Regions from separate parts of the Homo sapiens genome. Here all the other regions are reported to be linked to region 1. Evidence: microRNA targets listed by miRTarBase, many of them from high-throughput screens and not tested one by one. Region 1 holds a microRNA gene; each other region holds the end of a gene's coding sequence.

Evidence for each region. The annotated mature microRNA hsa-miR-3154 reads CAGAAGGGGAGUUGGGAGCAGA and lies in region 1 at 1,284-1,305, opposite strand. An mRNA with a match to its seed (bases 2 to 7 or 8) in the 3' UTR can be bound and repressed. Matches are read on the target gene's strand: a 7mer-m8 pairs with bases 2 to 8, a 7mer-A1 pairs with bases 2 to 7 and ends in A, and an 8mer does both.
Region 2: the mRNA of SNORC is a reported target of hsa-miR-3154. Seed matches in the 3' UTR shown: 7mer-m8 at 901-907.
Region 3: the mRNA of IFNLR1 is a reported target of hsa-miR-3154. Seed matches in the 3' UTR shown: 7mer-A1 at 2,797-2,803, 7mer-A1 at 2,662-2,668 and 7mer-A1 at 2,506-2,512.
Region 4: miRTarBase lists SYT7 as a target of hsa-miR-3154. Seed matches in the 3' UTR shown: 7mer-m8 at 1,210-1,216, 7mer-m8 at 1,511-1,517 and 7mer-m8 at 2,486-2,492.

Annotation. Positions count from the first base shown.
Region 1 is chr9:128,243,673-128,247,797 of GRCh38, forward strand. It overlaps MIR3154 (microRNA 3154), which reads right to left and starts at 1,358; the gene lies at 1,275-1,358. It overlaps DNM1 (dynamin 1), which reads left to right. Exons shown (of 22, transcript NM_004408.4): 16 at 2,722-2,831; 17 at 3,703-3,814. It overlaps MIR199B (microRNA 199b), which reads right to left and starts at 1,158; the gene lies at 1,049-1,158.
Region 2 is chr2:232,875,911-232,879,910 of GRCh38, forward strand. It overlaps SNORC (secondary ossification center associated regulator of chondrocyte maturation), which reads left to right. Exons shown (of 3, transcript NM_001394206.1): 2 at 30-212; 3 at 337-2,790. The coding sequence ends at 446. It overlaps NGEF (neuronal guanine nucleotide exchange factor), which reads right to left. Exons shown (of 15, transcript NM_019850.3): 15 at 2,791-3,769. The coding sequence ends at 3,579. Among named protein-coding and RNA genes, the nearest start is that of SNORC, 7.6 kb to the left of the region's middle. RefSeq lists a silencer at 579-648.
Region 3 is chr1:24,153,421-24,157,420 of GRCh38, forward strand. IFNLR1 (interferon lambda receptor 1) reads right to left here. Exons shown (of 7, transcript NM_170743.4): 7 at 748-4,000. The coding sequence ends at 3,710. It overlaps LOC124903879 (a long non-coding RNA gene), which reads left to right. Exons shown (of 3, transcript XR_007065544.1): 2 at 1,592-1,772; 3 at 3,835-4,000. Among named protein-coding and RNA genes, the nearest start is that of IL22RA1, 12 kb to the left of the region's middle. RefSeq lists enhancers at 1-74, 75-672, 673-1,270.
Region 4 is chr11:61,515,055-61,519,054 of GRCh38, reverse strand. It overlaps SYT7 (synaptotagmin 7), which reads left to right. Exons shown (of 13, transcript NM_001365809.2): 13 at 324-4,000. The coding sequence ends at 428. Among named protein-coding and RNA genes, the nearest start is that of LRRC10B, 8.3 kb to the right of the region's middle.

The sequences.
Region 1 (4,125 bases):
ATGGGTTTGGGGTCTCCCATGTTGAGGTTCCTTACTCAGGGCCAGGGAGACCATGTGACCTGGGGCTGAGGGCCGGAGACCGGGTGACACTGTGGGGGAGGGGCACGTGCCACTGAGGGGGTCCCCTGATCTCATGCCTGAGCCTGCAGGCCTTTCTGGAGCTTTTGTGTACATCTGAGTTAAGTCGTGTGCGAAAACAGCTCTGAGAATCATATGTGGGGAGATGGGAGTCAGCTGTGGGCTGTGGGTGCTGGGAGGCGGGGTGTGTTTGTGTGTGTGTGTGTGTGTGTGTGTGTGGCTTGTGGGTCTGGTGTGTGGGTGTTTTTTAGGAGTGTGATTGGAGTATAAGCATCTAGGTGTGTTTGGAATATGTGGTCTGCATTTGCATCTGGGGGTGAAATCTGTGTGCCTGGGGAGTGACTCTGGGCACCTGCCTGTGCTTGGGGTGTAAAAGCAGGTGTGTGTGGGGAGGGGGCTCTAGGAGGGAGGGTGTGAGTATGGGGTGTTTGAGAATCTGTGTATGTCTTTGGGATGTGAGGATGGGGGGAGTGTTCCAGTTGTGAGGGTGTGTATGGGTGTGTGTGCATGCACTTGTGTGTGTCCGTGTGGGACATGGGTGTGAGATTGAAAGTGTGGGGGTGCTCATGTGTGTGAGTTCTGGGGCTGTGAGTGTCAAGGTGCGTGTGTGTTGAATGTGAGTGGATTCTTGCACTAGGACCACTGGGGATGTGGAGGTGGTCCAGGCTGGTGGGAGAGTGGTCTGTACTTCTCTACTCAACCACCAGCCCTCAGGTTTTGGGGTGAGGGAGGCTCTTTGGGCAGACCGGCGGCTGCCCACATCCCCAGTCCCCATTGACCCCCCCATCCTCTCAGTCTTCCTCGGCCACCCTTCCCCCATCACCGCTACCCCCAACCAGTCCCACACAGGGTGGCACCCCCATCCATCTGTGCCTCCTCCCAGCCCGCCCTGTGCCCCAACCCCCTGGCTCCAGGCTCCGGTTCTGGGATGGCAGGCAGGGGTCGGTCCAGCTCTCCAGTGGCGGCGGTGCCGAGGGTCTAACCCAGCCCAGCCTAACCAATGTGCAGACTACTGTACAATTTGGGAGTCCTGAACAGATAGTCTAAACACTGGGTAGACGGAGTGGAGGTGTCCTCTGGTCCATCCAGGCAGCAGTGTCTGTCCATCCGGTGGGCGCTTCAGCCCCATCCCCTGGAGATCCGAGAACCCCCCAACCCCAGCCTGTGTCCCCCTAGCCCCAGACCAGCCAGCCCGTGGTCCCCTCTCTGCTCCCAACTCCCCTTCTGCCTCCTTTGACGTGGCAGGGGTGAGCGGGAGCTGGGGCTGAGAAGGAGGGGCCTGAGGAGGGGGCCGGCCGGCAGGAAGGGAGGGGTGGGGGGAGGAGGCCGCTCCTACCTAGTGTCCAACCCCGAAGCACAGGGCGGGTGGTGGCGGGGCCTCTCTCGAACGGTTCCAGATGTTCCCTGGCCGTGTGTGCAACTTCCTCCTCTCCTCCCCCAGCCGCCCTCTGGGGCTCCCGGCCACCCGCCTGGCATAAAGAGGGCTTTATGTGGCTGCATGGGCCAGGGGGGCGTTGGGGGCAGAGAGGGGTGGGCGGGATGACGCCAGGACGGGGGAGCAAGGTCCCCCTAAACCCAGCCCCCCACCTGAGATCCTAGGCAAGGCTCATGCCCAACCTCTTTGAGTCCCCGAGGCCCACACAGACGACCCCCGTGAACAAGTAGGGCATGGGTGACAAAAACCCCTCCCCTCTCCCAGAGCCCCATCCTGGGGTACCTCCTCCCTAGATCCCTGAACCCCTCCCCTGGGACACAGCAGCCTACATACACATGTGCCCACACCGAGCACACACATGGGCCTAGCACCCCACACGCCTGTGCACAGATACACATAACTCCTCCCAGACAGCTCTAGATAAATCAAACACACAGCCCATTGTACCACGGTGTGCAGGTAAGATGTGTACCCCAGTATAAGTCCACAGGCATGGCTCTGCAAACATGTAGGCTCGCACAATTGCCACACACATCCACAAAGTGTGCACACATCCACACTGAGATGCAGACACGCTGACACCGACACATGGTTCATGCTGGGCACCTCCCCAGATACACATGTGCACACACACACAATAGCTGATAGGATATGTACTTGGGCTTGCATGTGTTGGCACAAACACACAACTACACACATGTTGCACACACAGGCACACCATCTCCAGGCTTGTGCTGGCTGCCTTATTGCTAACACATGGGGAGCTCGGGGGAGTGGGCTGAGCCGGCCCTTTGAAGCCGCCGGGTCTGGTGGCCCCCCTTCCTGGTCTCTGCAGTCAGGAAATGAAGTCAGAGGCGGCCAGGCCGGGGGTGAGAGAGGCCTGAGTGTGCGGTCCCTGCCTGAGGCTGGCCTGGCTTGTATCCAGGACTTGCCTGGGGAGGGATTTTGGGAGCCACTCTCAGCCTCCCCACCCCTCACCAGCCCCCTGGCCCCCGGCATATATGCAGAGCTGGTAGGACTGGCTCTGCGGGGGTCGGCGGTGCCCAGGAGGCCTACGGTCCGTGGCCAGGCTTTTATCTAGCTGCACCTTCGCAGTGGGAGGGGGCTGATGCTTAGAAGCCCTGGGCCAGTCAGGGGGACTCTTAGAGAGTGAGGTGTGGCAGAGAACAGTGCCAACCTCACCCCATTGCTCCTACCTGCACCCACAGGAGAAAGAGAAGAAATACATGCTGTCTGTGGACAACCTCAAGCTGCGGGACGTGGAGAAGGGCTTTATGTCGAGCAAGCATATCTTTGCCCTCTTTAACACGGAGCAGAGGTGCCTGCCTGCCCCTGGCTGTGGCTGCTGCAGCCCCAAAACCACCCTCACTGAGTAGAAGCTGGGTACAGGGATCCAGGGAGGAGAGGAACCTCCCCTAGGCCCCACAGCAAGCCATCCACTGACAGATGCTTATTGAGTTCCTGCTTTGAGCTAGACATCATGTCAAGATCTCCCATCCCCTCCCCTTCCCTTCCCTCCTCCTTCCCTCCCTCTTTTCCTTCCTCCCTTCCTTCCTTCCATCCTCCCTCCTTTCCTCCCTCCCTCCCTTCCTCCCTTCCTTCCATTCTCCCCTTCCCTCCCTCCCTCCGTCCCTTCCTCCCTTCCATAGTCACTGGTATAGTGCATGCTCTTCATGAGACACTCTGCCAGGCACTGGAGCCAAAGGGCCCTAGTCAGGCCTGGTCCTCTTCTCCTGCTCTCTTTCCTATAGGGTGGTGGCAGTACTAGTCCTCTTCCTTCCTGACCCAAGGCTGACTCTAGTGGGCCCTCTGCTACTCGGAGATGAGAGTTCAGTCCAGCGGCCATCAGAGGGGTCCTTAGAGAGCCACGGAGAAAGCTGGTGGGATCTGGGCCCCAAGCTAGAGACTTCACTGACTATGGTTGTCCTCTTGTCAAAGGTCCAGTCCCCTTCTAAGCATTTTACCACTCACTTCACTGAATCCTCAGTGACCCAAGGAGGCAGGAATTATTATTAACCCATCTTCCCAGTGAGGAAACTGAGGCTGAGAGGAAGGGACTTGCACAGGGTCACACAGCTGGGAAATGAGCTGGCCTCAGGCATGTTGACCCCAAAGTCTGGGCATGCCCTTAACCCCCAGGGAGGGTCAGACTTTGCCCATCTGCCCTCACTGCCTGCCCTATCTTGCAGGAATGTCTACAAGGATTATCGGCAGCTGGAGCTAGCCTGTGAGACACAGGAGGAGGTGGACAGCTGGAAGGCCTCCTTCCTGAGGGCTGGCGTGTACCCTGAGCGTGTTGGGGTGAGTGGCAGGGCAAGGAGAGGAAGGGCAAGCATGATCCTAGGGCCCCTGGGGCACCATCCTCAGTGATGCCAAGTCATGCCATGTTTCCGAGCCCTTATTTGGCTCAGAAATAATAGGAATCCTCCCCCCTACCCACTCTGGGGGTGGGAACAGAGATAAGTCTCCTGGTATTCCCATCCTTCTCCAGTGGCAGTTTTGTGTCTCTGTCTCTGTTGCAGATGGCATTTCCTCCATCCCCTTTCTATGATGGTAGTTTCTTGTGACTGCCTTCTCTTTTCTCCCCTATTTCACTGTGGCGATGTCTAGAG
Region 2 (4,000 bases), not on the chromosome of region 1:
GGCCCCAGCACCTCTCCTTGGCTTTGCAGACGATGTTCCACAGGAGCCCGTGCCCACGCTGTGGAACGAGCCGGCCGAGCTGCCGTCGGGAGAAGGCCCCGTGGAGAGCACCAGCCCCGGCCGGGAGCCCGTGGACACCGGTCCCCCAGCCCCCACCGTCGCGCCAGGACCCGAGGACAGCACCGCGCAGGAGCGGCTGGACCAGGGCGGCGGTACGGGCGGGGCGGGGGAGGGAGGGGAGAGGGAGAAATTAGGAGGGGCGGGGGGCGGGGGGCGCGGGGAGAAGGGCCGGCCAGGCGGGGGCTAGCAGGTGACATGGTCCTCCGTCCTCCGCAGGGTCGCTGGGGCCCGGCGCTATCGCGGCCATCGTGATCGCCGCCCTGCTGGCCACCTGCGTGGTGCTGGCGCTCGTGGTCGTCGCGCTGAGAAAGTTTTCTGCCTCCTGAAGCGAATAAAGGGGCCGCGCCCGGCCGCGGCGCGACTCGGCTGCACTCCTCACGCGCCTGTATGTCCGCGCGTGCGTGTCCGCGCATGCAGGTGTGCCAGAGCGTGAGCGCGCGCAGGCGAGCGCTCAGGGCGGGGGTGCGCGCGGGGCCGAGGGTGGGTGCCGTGCACGCGCGCGGGTCCGGAGGCGCGCCCGAATTCCCCGCAGGGGCGCCGGGGCGTGCGTGAGCGCACAGCATGTCCGAGCCCGCCTGCGTGTGGCGTGCACCTGAGCGCGCGCAGGGCCGCGCGGCTCGGCGTCCCCGTGCACCACGGCTGGAGTGCCTCAGGAGCGCGCCGCATGTGCGTGCCCGGTGCGCGTGCGCCGGGGCCGCCAGGGCATCGGAGCGGGTGTGCGGCCAGCGGTCTTAGCCCGTCCGGGGGCACCGTCACGGTCAGGGCCACGCCACGGGCGGCCCCTTCTCCCGGCGCCGCCTCCTCTGCCTGGGCGCGGGCCGAGGCCCTCGCCGCGCTCCCCGGGGCCTGCCTCCCATCCCGCTCCGCTGGGGTTCAGAGCGTTCCGTGAGGAGGTAAGCGCTAGGGCAGGAGAGGCCGACAGAGACCCCGGGGCCCGCCGCTCCTTGAGGCCGGGGTTGGGGAGGGCAGGGGCCGTCGGCTCTCCCAGCCAGAGGCCGCGTGGTTTTGGGGGACGTCTTGACTCTGAGTCCTGCAGCCAGGGCCCCATCCGCGGGCTCAGACCAGCAGCCCCAAGCCCCCCTCTGCCCAGGGAGCCTCAGGAGCAGGATGAGTCGAGAGTCGACGCCGGACACGGCCCGCCCCTGCTTCCTACTCTCACCCCCAGGCCTGGCTGGGGGCCGGCAGCCCCCACGCCCACGGTTGGTTTGTTCAGGGAGAGAAAACGGCTTTCCCAGCTCTACTCACCTCACTTCACCCTCAGAGAGTCGGGGCGGAGTGAGGGTGAGGAGCCTGGTCCAGGGTCCCCACCTCGGAAGCATTTAGAGATGTAAACTTTGATCCTTTGATCATTTAACCTGCTCAGCACAGCAGGAAGTGGGAACTTGGTCCCTACCCCAGTCCCCAGGGCCTTTGGAGGGAAGGGTTGGACAGTTTGGAGGCCAGCAGACCCCTTGGGGACAGCTTAATGTATCTGAAGATTCCTGAGTGGGAATGTTGCTGGAGGGCAAGCTGCTTCTCTTTTTTAAAAATTCATTTTCTCTAGCAGCTGTTTTGGCCCCTTTGGTGTCCCTGAGCTCCCCATGGCACTGTTTCCTGCCGTGACTTTCTCCTCCTGGACACTGGAGCCCAGGTGGTGCCCGCGCACCTCTCACACACTGGGGGATAGGGTCAAGGCCTCATCCAAGTCTGTTAACAGCTTCCCACTCAACCAGTCTCCCCAAAATACACTGTGAGTTCAATGATTCTGCTTATAAAGGAGTGCTATGAAACTGACCTATTTTCCTAATTGGTTAACTGACTTCATCTCACATAACCTTGAGTAACCAAAGCCTTCATCAGAGCGGACGATCCAACCCAACATGCTGTTTCCCATCCTCAAAAGGCACGGGGACCAATGGCCACCCAACTCCTTCCCAACCCTCCCCTCCAGGGACGAGAGATGGCCCCCTCTTTCCCTTTCCCCACTCTGCAAGCACTCCCCCACCAACGGGTGCATCACAGCCCCTCACTGGGACCAGGGGGCCTCCCTCTCCGGTGGAACCAGTGTCACATGCCTGTGCATCTCTGTGATTCTCAGAGGGTCTGAGGTCCGAGCACCCTGCTGTGGCCTGTGGGAAGACGCTACAAAGTCCCACTGGATCTAAACCAGAGGCCTGTTCTGGCGAGCAGGGAAACTGTGTCCTGGCAGAGATCGTGGTCCTGGGCACACAGGACCCCTCAGCACACTGAGGTGGAGCTGGGGCGAGGGGAGGGGGTGCGCTCTGGGTAACTGAAGGTGTGAAGGGCCCAGGGCCTGTTTCTGGGCAGTGCAGGAAGTCCCAGCCCCATGCCTGTGGTGAGATCCCCTGTAGGGCCCCCCCCACCATGGACACTTCGGGGCCTCTACGGTCTTCCAAAGCTGTGTCCTCATTTCCACTGCAGCAGAGGGGCGTCCCCAGCTCCGTCAAACAGCCCTTTCTGTTTCTGGAGTCCTACAAGTGGAGGCCCAAATCCGTTCCCATGTTGAGGCAAGGCCCTGGCTGTTCCTTCCTCTCTGGAAACCGCCTTGAACTCTTCCTTTGGGACATGCCTCCTCGACCAGCCTTGAAGGGGTGCTCCTCTCTCACTACCTGGAACCAAACACCCCCTTCCTTTGTGTACAAGGGCAATAAAGAGTAGACCTTCATCTTCTTTATTTTATATATGATGCTTCTTTTAATGCAGCCAAAAGTGATATTTGCTTTTCTCAGAACCATAATCGATACAAGATGCAGTGACCAATTCATTCCTTAAAACACCTGGGCTCCTTAAGGGGCTAGAAGACACAAGTTACATCCAGCCCATCAGGGAGCCAGAGGCGGGAGGGGTCCCCAGCCAAGCTCTGGCAGGCCTGCCATGGGGCAGGGCCTGACCGTGCAGCCAGAGGCTGGCAGAGGCCTGGGGAAGGGTGGGCAGAGGCAGCTGGGCTCTCAGTCCTGGAACCGGAGACCAAGGGCTGCTCATCAAGCTCCGTCAGGCAAGGGCGGCCTCATCTGTGCCTGGTAGATTCTAACTGCTTCCAAGGTAGAGGAGGACGCGTGCAGGAAATCGTGTCAATTGTCACCTTCTGCCTGCCTCCCACAGGGACACTCTGGGTTGGGAGCCTCTTCCAGTCCCTGGGGGCCAGGGGCATGGGGGGCCCTGGAGTGTGCCCACCCCCTTCCACCCCCTCGGAGGCATGAGGGAGGTGGTGTAATACTGCTGAAACCTTCTTGTTTACAAATGCATCAGGAGAGGCTTGGGCACCCTTTATCCAGTTTGCGAGCAAGGGGCCAAGACACATGAGCACTCACTGCGTGGGCAGGGATGAGGGCCGGGCACCCCAAGCCAGATCCTGCCACCTGGGGAGGTGCTGGCCTGTGCTTCCCAGAGCCCCCCCCCCCCCACCTTCTGTCGGGGTCTCATGCAGGCCCTGCTCCCGCTGGCCCCCTGGGTGGGGGTCATTGCCGATTCCGGCTGCCCAGCTTCCTGCGGTCCTTGTTCTGGCTGCGCTGAGGGTCATCCATCTTGTGGACACGGAAACATTCCTTGAGGTTCTGGGACCGGATCTTGGGATTCAAGATCTCCTCAGTCATGGAGCTGGGGAACCAGCCTCTCTCCTGGTCGTGCAGACGCTCGCCAAAGATCCACCCTGTGCAGGGAGGGGAGGGAGAGAAGGTCAGTGCTCCTGCAGGGCACAGGCTGCACAGAGGCTCCCTCCTGGCCAGGGCCCCCATCTGTGGCGGGACACTAGGGGTCCAGCTGGCCTTTCCCAAAAGGCAGCGGCTCTGCACACCTCTGCCGAGATGCTCAGACTGGAGTCACCCCCATAAGCTGGGAGGTGCATGAGCACCTGCACGGAACAAGGCCTGCTCCGTGCCAC
Region 3 (4,000 bases), not on the chromosome of region 1:
CTCCACACTCCCCTCCTCCCCTACCCTCCGCCCCATCTTGCCTCCACACTCCCCTCCTGGCGTTACCTGGATCACTGCACTGCTTTCTACCTTTCTACCTTTTCTCTGGGTTTGCTTCTGGGGACCCGACTCAAGACCCTTGTAGTCTTTTTTTTTTTTTTTTCTGAGACTGAGTCTGGCTCTGTTGCCCAGGGTGGAGTGCAGTGGTGTGATCTTGGCTCACTGCAAGCTCCACCTCCCGGGTTCATGCCATTCTCCTGCTTCAGCCTCCCAAGTAGCTGGGACTACAGTCGCCCGCCACCACCCTCGGCTAATTTTTTGTATTTTTAGTAGAGACAGGGTTTCACCATGTTAGCCAGGACGGTCTCGATCTCCTGACCTCGTGATCTGCCCGCCTCGGCCTCCCAAAGTGCTGGGATTACAGGTATCAGCCACCCTGCCTGGCTGACCCTTGTAGCCTTAACAGCTAGGTTTCCCAGAGGAGAGGTGAGGAGCCTTTGAAAAATAAGAGCATAGGCCAGAAACGGTCACTCACACCTATAATCCCAACCAACACTTTGGGAGGCCGAGGCGGGAAGGATTGCTTGAGCCCAGGAGTTTGAGACCAGCCTGGGCAACATAGGAGATTCCATCTCTACAAAAACAAAAAAATTAACCAGGCCTGGTGGGGCATGCGTGCATGACAGAGTGAGATCCTGTCTCAAAAAAAAAAAGATAAGAGCATACGCTTTTCCATTCAATTGTACCTTTTTTCTTTAAAAATAGAGCTCTTTATTTAAACAGTTTAGGGTAATACCAACAAGCAGTAGGATATCGTTTAAATATGACATAAACATAGAAAAAATAGAAATAAATACAAATACATAAGAACAACATATACCGTTAGTAGTCTAAAGGGATACATGTTGCTTTCACCTAAGGCACTAACACTTTTCACGGGATATGCTTCCAGCGCAGGCCCAGCCCACACCGCGCAGTTCCCACCTGCTGTGCACGTGAAAGGGCTTTGTAAACAGTTAAGTGCTGACCACACAAGGCAAATTATTATACTGATTATCATGCCCTTTCCAAATGCTTCTCCTGGCTTTTTGTGAATGACTTAATGACGATAAAGGAGATGGAGTTTAGAGTTACTGGAAAACTTAAGCTATGTCAGAAATTAAACTCTGGAAAAAATTCTTTAAAAAAATAGTAAGGTTTGGCTGGGCGCGGTGGCTCACGCCTGTAATCCCAGCACTTTGGGAGGCCGAGGCGGGCGGATCACCTGAGGTCAGGAGTTCGAGACCAGCCTGGCCAACATGGTGAAACCCCGTCTCTACTAAAAATACAAAAAAATTAGCCAGGTGTGGTGGCGGGTGCCTGTAATCCCAGCTACTTGGGAGGCTGAGGCAGGAGAATCACTTGAACCCGGGAGGTGGAGGTTGCAGTGAGCCGAGATTGTACCACTGCACTCCAGCCTAGGCAAAAAGAACAAAACTCCGACTCAAAAAAACAAAACAAAACAAAAATGGTAAGGTTTAAGAATAGAAACGGAGTGGTTATTTCATACAAGTCTAAGATGATGCTGATGATAGCTTTTACTTTTTTGAAGTTACCTCCACGAAGCAGCTCGGCTGGTGCCAGAGAGAACATCGGTACAGGTCTGGGAATTTCCCTGGGAGCTGGCCCCAAGCCACAGCCCTCCCCAGCTCCGTAGTTTGTTTGTTCTTCCTCTCCTGGGCTCAATCATCTGGACAAGCCTCACTGCAGGGAAAACCCCTGGGGAGACACAGGTGTGTGTCGTATGTGTGTATGCATGTGTGTGTGTGTGCCCCAGCAGCGGTGAAGGCCTCCTGACCCTTAGAAATCCTGGCTGTGACCTTCATATTTTACTGACATGGACAAGGGGTCAGAGGTTGGCCCGGCTGTGCAGAGATCGAAGCTCTTACCCTTGGGGATGTGCACAAGTCATCAGAGCAGCACTGCTGGGCGACCTTGGACAAGTGCCTTTGCCACCCTTGACCTCAGCTCCTTTGCAACAAAAGGAGTGGTTTGCTAACTTTTTCTTGAGTAGTGGATCCCTCTAAACAAAACCTCACGTGGAAAGCCACAGTGTGTGAATCAGGGCACAGTGAGGCTGCTCTGGTGAAAGTGGGAGGCTCCTATAGCCCCATGGCGCCCCCTGCAACTGCAGCCCAAGGCCTCTGGGGGACATGGTTTGAGAATCCCTGGATGAGATGCCCTAAGAAGCTTTTCCAGTTCTGCCATTTAATGCTGTACCCTTGTGGTGGCTTTAAAGCAACACAGCTCTGTGGGTTCAATGGCTTTGAAGATCCCTTCTTCACAAATCCAGAAATGTTAGTCCTGGCAGGTTGAATGGCCACAGAGCCAAGGTTGTTCAGATACTCCACCACAAAACACTTCGGTCCTACGGGTGAAAACTCAGCTACGCTCATCTATATTCAGGTGGGTGTAGGTTAACTGAGGATGCATCAGCACCCCCAGGTAAGGATAGTCACCTGAATCTAGAAGGCATTGGTTTCTCATAACTGGAAGGGAGAATGGGACTTCTAAGGACCACAACGGTCAACCAAGAGTCTAACGTGCCATCCAAACTGGGATTACAGGCCCAGAAGTCCGATTCCTGCCATGTTACTGTCCTACTCCAACAAACTGGGTCCCTAGAAGGTGGAGCAGTTGGTTCCTCCCCTGGGAAGCAGGGTTCCCATTGCTAGGTGAAGGCGGAGAGACCAGGGTCCCCTTGGGTGGGGCTCTGGCTTCTGAGAGCTCACTCTCCTGACTGGGAGGCAGTGAGGGTAGAAGGAAGGAGGTAGACTGGGGATGAGACAAGCTGAATGTTAAGTGCTCTCAGTCACTCTGGGTTTAGGGGCCACAGGTGGGAGATGCCCAGGGGTCTCCTGGAGCCTGGATAGATGGAGAATTCTACCGGCCACCACGTAGAGAGCACCCAGGACACAGCAGGCTCCGTGCTACACACATCTGAGATCCCCTAGAACCCTCACCACACCCAGGCGTAGCTGCAGATGAGGAAGCCGAGGCAGAGAAGGAAGATGTCTTCCCCAAGATCATACAACCAGTGAACAGCAGAGCTGGGATTTGAACCCCGGTCTGTCTGACACTAAAACCGTACAGTGCCATGACTCCAAAGACCAGGATTTGAGGACAGCCACCCTTCCCTTCCCATCCAAAACCCTCAGCCAACTGGATTTTTATCTGGGCCTAACTAGGGGACCCATGAATCAGGAGGCTGAGCCCTGGGATGGGGGAGTTCAGTGGCTGCTGGGAAAGGCATGAGGTATAGCAGGTGTGCCTCCAGTGGTCTCAAGTTCCAGAGGGCCCCTTGGTGGTGTCCGCCCTTGATGTCCGCAGTGACCTGACCTCACCTGTTTCATGTTGTCCGGGGATAATTTTTCCCCCTGGCCTGTCACCCTAGGGACAATGGGGGTGATGACACCCCACCAACCTCTGACCTCAGCCCACCCTGTGTCCACCCCTCTTATAGCTCAGCCTAAAGAGGGCGGGTCACAGGAGGGAGGGGCATCTTGTTGCTCAGCCCGACAGGCAAACAGCCGCTAGGTGGACTTCCCGGAAGTGCAATGCCCCTCCGCCGCCCAGGGGAGGTACGGAGGCTCTTGAGTTTCTTGGGAAGCCCAGTAGTCCTTGCAAAGGCAGCAGCAGCATCAGATTCGGTGGGATGTCGGGGGACAGCTCACCTGGCCATGTAATGCCCCAATGTCCGGCCCCTGTCCTCGGTCCTCTGGGTGCTCTCAGCCCCCCAGCTGCCCGCATCGCTGTCCTCAATTTCTGATTCCCTCGCCTCCTCTTCCTCCTCAGGGCTGCTTTCCCAGCAGAAGGTCAGTGTCTGAAGAGAAACTGGGGGTCCCCCAGGGACCAGATTCGGCTCCGGTGGTAAGGTGCCCCAGGTGGCCCAGGAGGAGAGGTTATCTTCTGGGAGCTCTTCCAGGAAACCCGAGTCCTTGGAGAATTCAGGTGGTGGGAG
Region 4 (4,000 bases), not on the chromosome of region 1:
AACAGATAGGGCAGGGAAGGCCATGGAGACAAGCTGCCTCCAACCCCACCTTCCAGACCCCACTGCAAAATAGGTTGGCAGTCTAATTCCGAGAGGCCTGGCGTGCCCAGGCTTGGGGGTGTGGGGGTAGACAACCAGGAAAATAGATCAGGCTGACTGGGGGAGGGAGGAGAGCGCCTCTGTGGGGTAGGTTGTCACAGCATGTGGAGGCTGGGGGGCCACAGGCTAGGGTATCATGGTGGAGTTGGGGTGTCACCCCTGTGGGGGAAAGGGCCAGTGCCCTGGAGCCTGTGCCGATGCCATCGTCTCCCCTTTCTCCCCAGATCTACCTGTCCTGGAAGAGCGGGCCAGGGGAGGTGAAGCACTGGAAGGACATGATTGCCCGTCCCCGGCAGCCCGTGGCCCAGTGGCACCAGCTGAAGGCCTGAGTGGGGCCAAGGGAGGCCCAGGGGGCCGAGGGCCCAGGTCCCCATCATGCCCTCACCACTTTATGCACAACGCCCGGCCTGAGCCCCCTGCCATAGGGAGGGGAGGACCCTGAGGGCTCAGCCAGGGAGGGGTCCCAGGACTCAACTGGGCCCCGTTTCTAGGAAGTACCAGCCCCATCCCCCACAGTCCAGCTCCGGGGAAGGGGCTCTGGGAGGCATTTTCCTGCTTTGCCCCTTTTCTTCCTGACTTACTAATACTAAAGAAGTTGGGGGAGCTCGAGAGCCAGACGGCCAGACAGGCAGACCCCTCCAGAGGCCCGCCAGGTGGGCATGGTCCCCCATTTTCTTTAAGGCAGCACCTGGAGTGGAGAGAGGCCACTCCCTCTCCAGCCCCCGATGTGGACCCGGGGAGGGGAGGCTGAGGCGTTTGGCCCCGGCCTGGCCAGGAGAGGCCCATCCCCAGGGCAGTTTCAGGTGCCGGCTGGGCCCTGAATGTCGAGGATAGTATATAGCCCGCTCCTGGGTCCTGGAGCTGTGGCCCTTTGTACTCGTGTTGTGTCCATTGTGTGTGTGCGTGGGGACAGAGGCCTGGAAATGCGGAGGACTATACAGAGAAGGCAGGTTTTGTGAAGGCCAGGCAGGGTTGGAGGCCGGGGGTGTGAGAGGAGAGGCCCATAGGGCTGAGTGGGGTCGGGTGAGGCAGAGGTCAGAAACAGAAGAGCTGCAGTTGCTGGAGCTGGGCTGAGAACTGGGCTGCCTCCTGCCATCCCCCCGTCTCCTCCCCTTCTCCCCTTGGTGCCCCCCTCTGCTCAGAATCTGAAGTAGTTCCCTCCTCAGCAATTTCATCTCTTGAACACTGACTCACACCTTTTAGGCACCTACTGTGTGCATAGCATTCCACCAGGACTCATCTCCCTTCCTTCTCAGGGGGTCCCGAGCCCCGACTAGCTTTGCCCTAACTCCTTCATCAAAAGACCCCCCGCCAGCTTCCCACACCTCATACGCAGCCACATCTGCCCTATTCTCCATGCTTTCCAGCTTGCCTGCCCTTCCTCATCTCTCCCTGCCTGTGCAGACCTCCACCCTTCTTTCCTCCACCCCTCCATCCCCCAATGCTTGTAGACCTTCCATTCATTCCGTCTCATCGTGCGTGGTCTCTGATCGTCCATCACCTGACCTTCTCCAGGACTGTCTTCTCACCCTTCCCCACTCCCTGGTCCCCGGGAGCAGCTCCTTCTGCCCGACTCACTCACAGTGCAGGGAAAGGAGGCAGGGAAAAGACCAGGATTCTGTGAGTTCTGAGGTTGCCACACACAAAGAAGCTGTGGTTTCTCTGCCTCGGCCACTGATGAGACTAAAACTGGCTTCCCCTTGGAGACGGCAGATTTCAGGCTGATCCCTGCTTAAGCCCTCTCATCCCCACGCTGGTCCTGGTATTGATACAAGACCCAGCTGGTGACAAAGCCTCCAATCCTGGGGGTCCACGAGCCTGGGCCTGACATTCCCAGAACTACCGCCAGGTGGCGCCAGGCCCCCACAGTCTGTGGCCGTGGTCTTAGCCCCCAGTTCCACTCTGGATGGGCCTGTGACACCCCAAAGAGAAGAAGGGGACTCTGGATAGGGTCCCCACATCCAGGGCGTGGGGAGACCATTGGCATTTGGGAACCATTTTCCTTCGAACGGCTTCCCCTTGAGCTGAGCATTCTGCTTGCTGCAGTAGACGGGTCGCCTTTTGCCCATACCGAAATTTTCTGAAATTAAATCGCACACCCCCACCATTTCCTCTCCCTGGGATCTGGAGGAACATCATACATAGTAGGTGAATCGTTTTGTAGAGTGAAGAATGCTAATGTAAAGCAAATAGTCACCCACGTTCCTTGTAAATCCAAATGTTTCTATATTGTAGCTTTGCTTAAAATGGGGTCGGCCCCAACTGCATCCTCCTCTTTGGCGGGCTGGGGAGCGGCCCCCAGCCGGGACGGGAGGGCAGCGACCCCGAGGCCTCGTGGACGTGGGAGAGAGTGTGGTGGGAAGTCTTGAGCGGAGGAGGGGATCTGCCCTTCTCCACTCCTCTCTTGGATCCGCCTCGGTTTCCTGTCCCCCCACCACCCGCCTGCCCCGCGGAAGACCGCCCAGTGAGCCAGCCCCCACCTTCCAGGCGCCTTCGCCCTGGGGATCCAACCAACTTGTATCGAGTGGGCGGGGCAACGGCTCCCCATTTTTCCCGAGCCCCGCCCACAGAGCTCTTAGCCAATCCTATGCAGAGAGCATCTCCTGGCAGGGGTCTCTTCCCAACCAGACCCCACCCAGGCACATTAGCGACCAGGCTTGGGCTTCCCCAGCGCCCCACCACCACCACGTGCAGGTGGAGCTCTGGGATGCTATGTTGGGGCGGCAAGCGGTGGGCCGAGGGCCGGGTAGGCTAGCACGGGAGGTAAGGGTGGTATGGGATGGGGCGGGGGCGGTCTAGGGCAATAGGAGAGCAGAGAATGGGGGAACTTGAGGGTGGGGGGAGGGCACCGGAGCCTTGCCACCATCCCAGGACTTTGGGCAAGTCACCCGCACTCCCTGGGCCTCGGTTTCCCCATCTGTAAAATGATGGTAATAATACTTCACCTACCTCATAGGGGAGGTTGTGAGGCCACCATCACCTGACCTGGGGGTCAAGGCAGGAGGACTCCGAAGGTGCTACCCGTGAGCAAAGTGTAATTACCGAATCCTGACTGCAAGGCCCACCTGCCCCTCCCCCACAGAGCCTCCAGAGCTAGCTGAGGCCAACGCAGGCCCATCCGTCTCTTCACTCTGTCGCAGGCCCTTTCATGGGCTTCGTCTGCCATCTTTGTGGGTGCCCTAGACTTAGTCCTTATCTTGTCCTGGTTTCCTTTCTTGTGACCATCTCCCCATGAAAGTGCTGTACAAATTCCACCCGCCCCAGGACCCCCGCACCTGCCCTCTGGCACCAGATGCCAGGGAAGGGACAGAGGAAAACAGCCACAAACAAGCCAGGGGGGCTCCCCGGAGCCCCAGGGGTGGGGATTGGTGGCCACTGTTTGTATGTTCTTGAGTGCAAGTGTTTTATAAAAAATAAAACAAAAACCCACCATCACAAAAAAAAAAATTTTGCAGCGAAGAGAAATGAAGAAAAACTGAAGAAAAAAAAAAAACAGGAAAAAAAGAACCATACAAAATTTTTCCACCACACATACCCTCTAAGCCAGCAAGATTTCCTCTTTGCAAAATCATATTTTTGTGGGAATGGGCCCTGCTTTTTGTGGCAAGGCCTGTTCTGATTAATAAAGGATCGTGAAAAAGTAGGGCCTTGGCTGTTTCCTCCGTGGGTCCCAGCCCTCCCTCACCTCCCTGGGGGCAGAGGCAGTGGGGTGAAGGGGATGGGGGCCCCGGGGCTGAGCCTCCCCTCAGTGTGTCACCTTTGGGATTTGACTTCACTGGTGACCAGGCCCTTCCCGAGTGTCCAGCCATCCTCAGATCTCTATAGAATATGATCCCACTGGCTTCCCAGAAAGCAGAGAGGCAGCTACATCTCCCAGATCAGGCCTGACACAAGGCTTTTT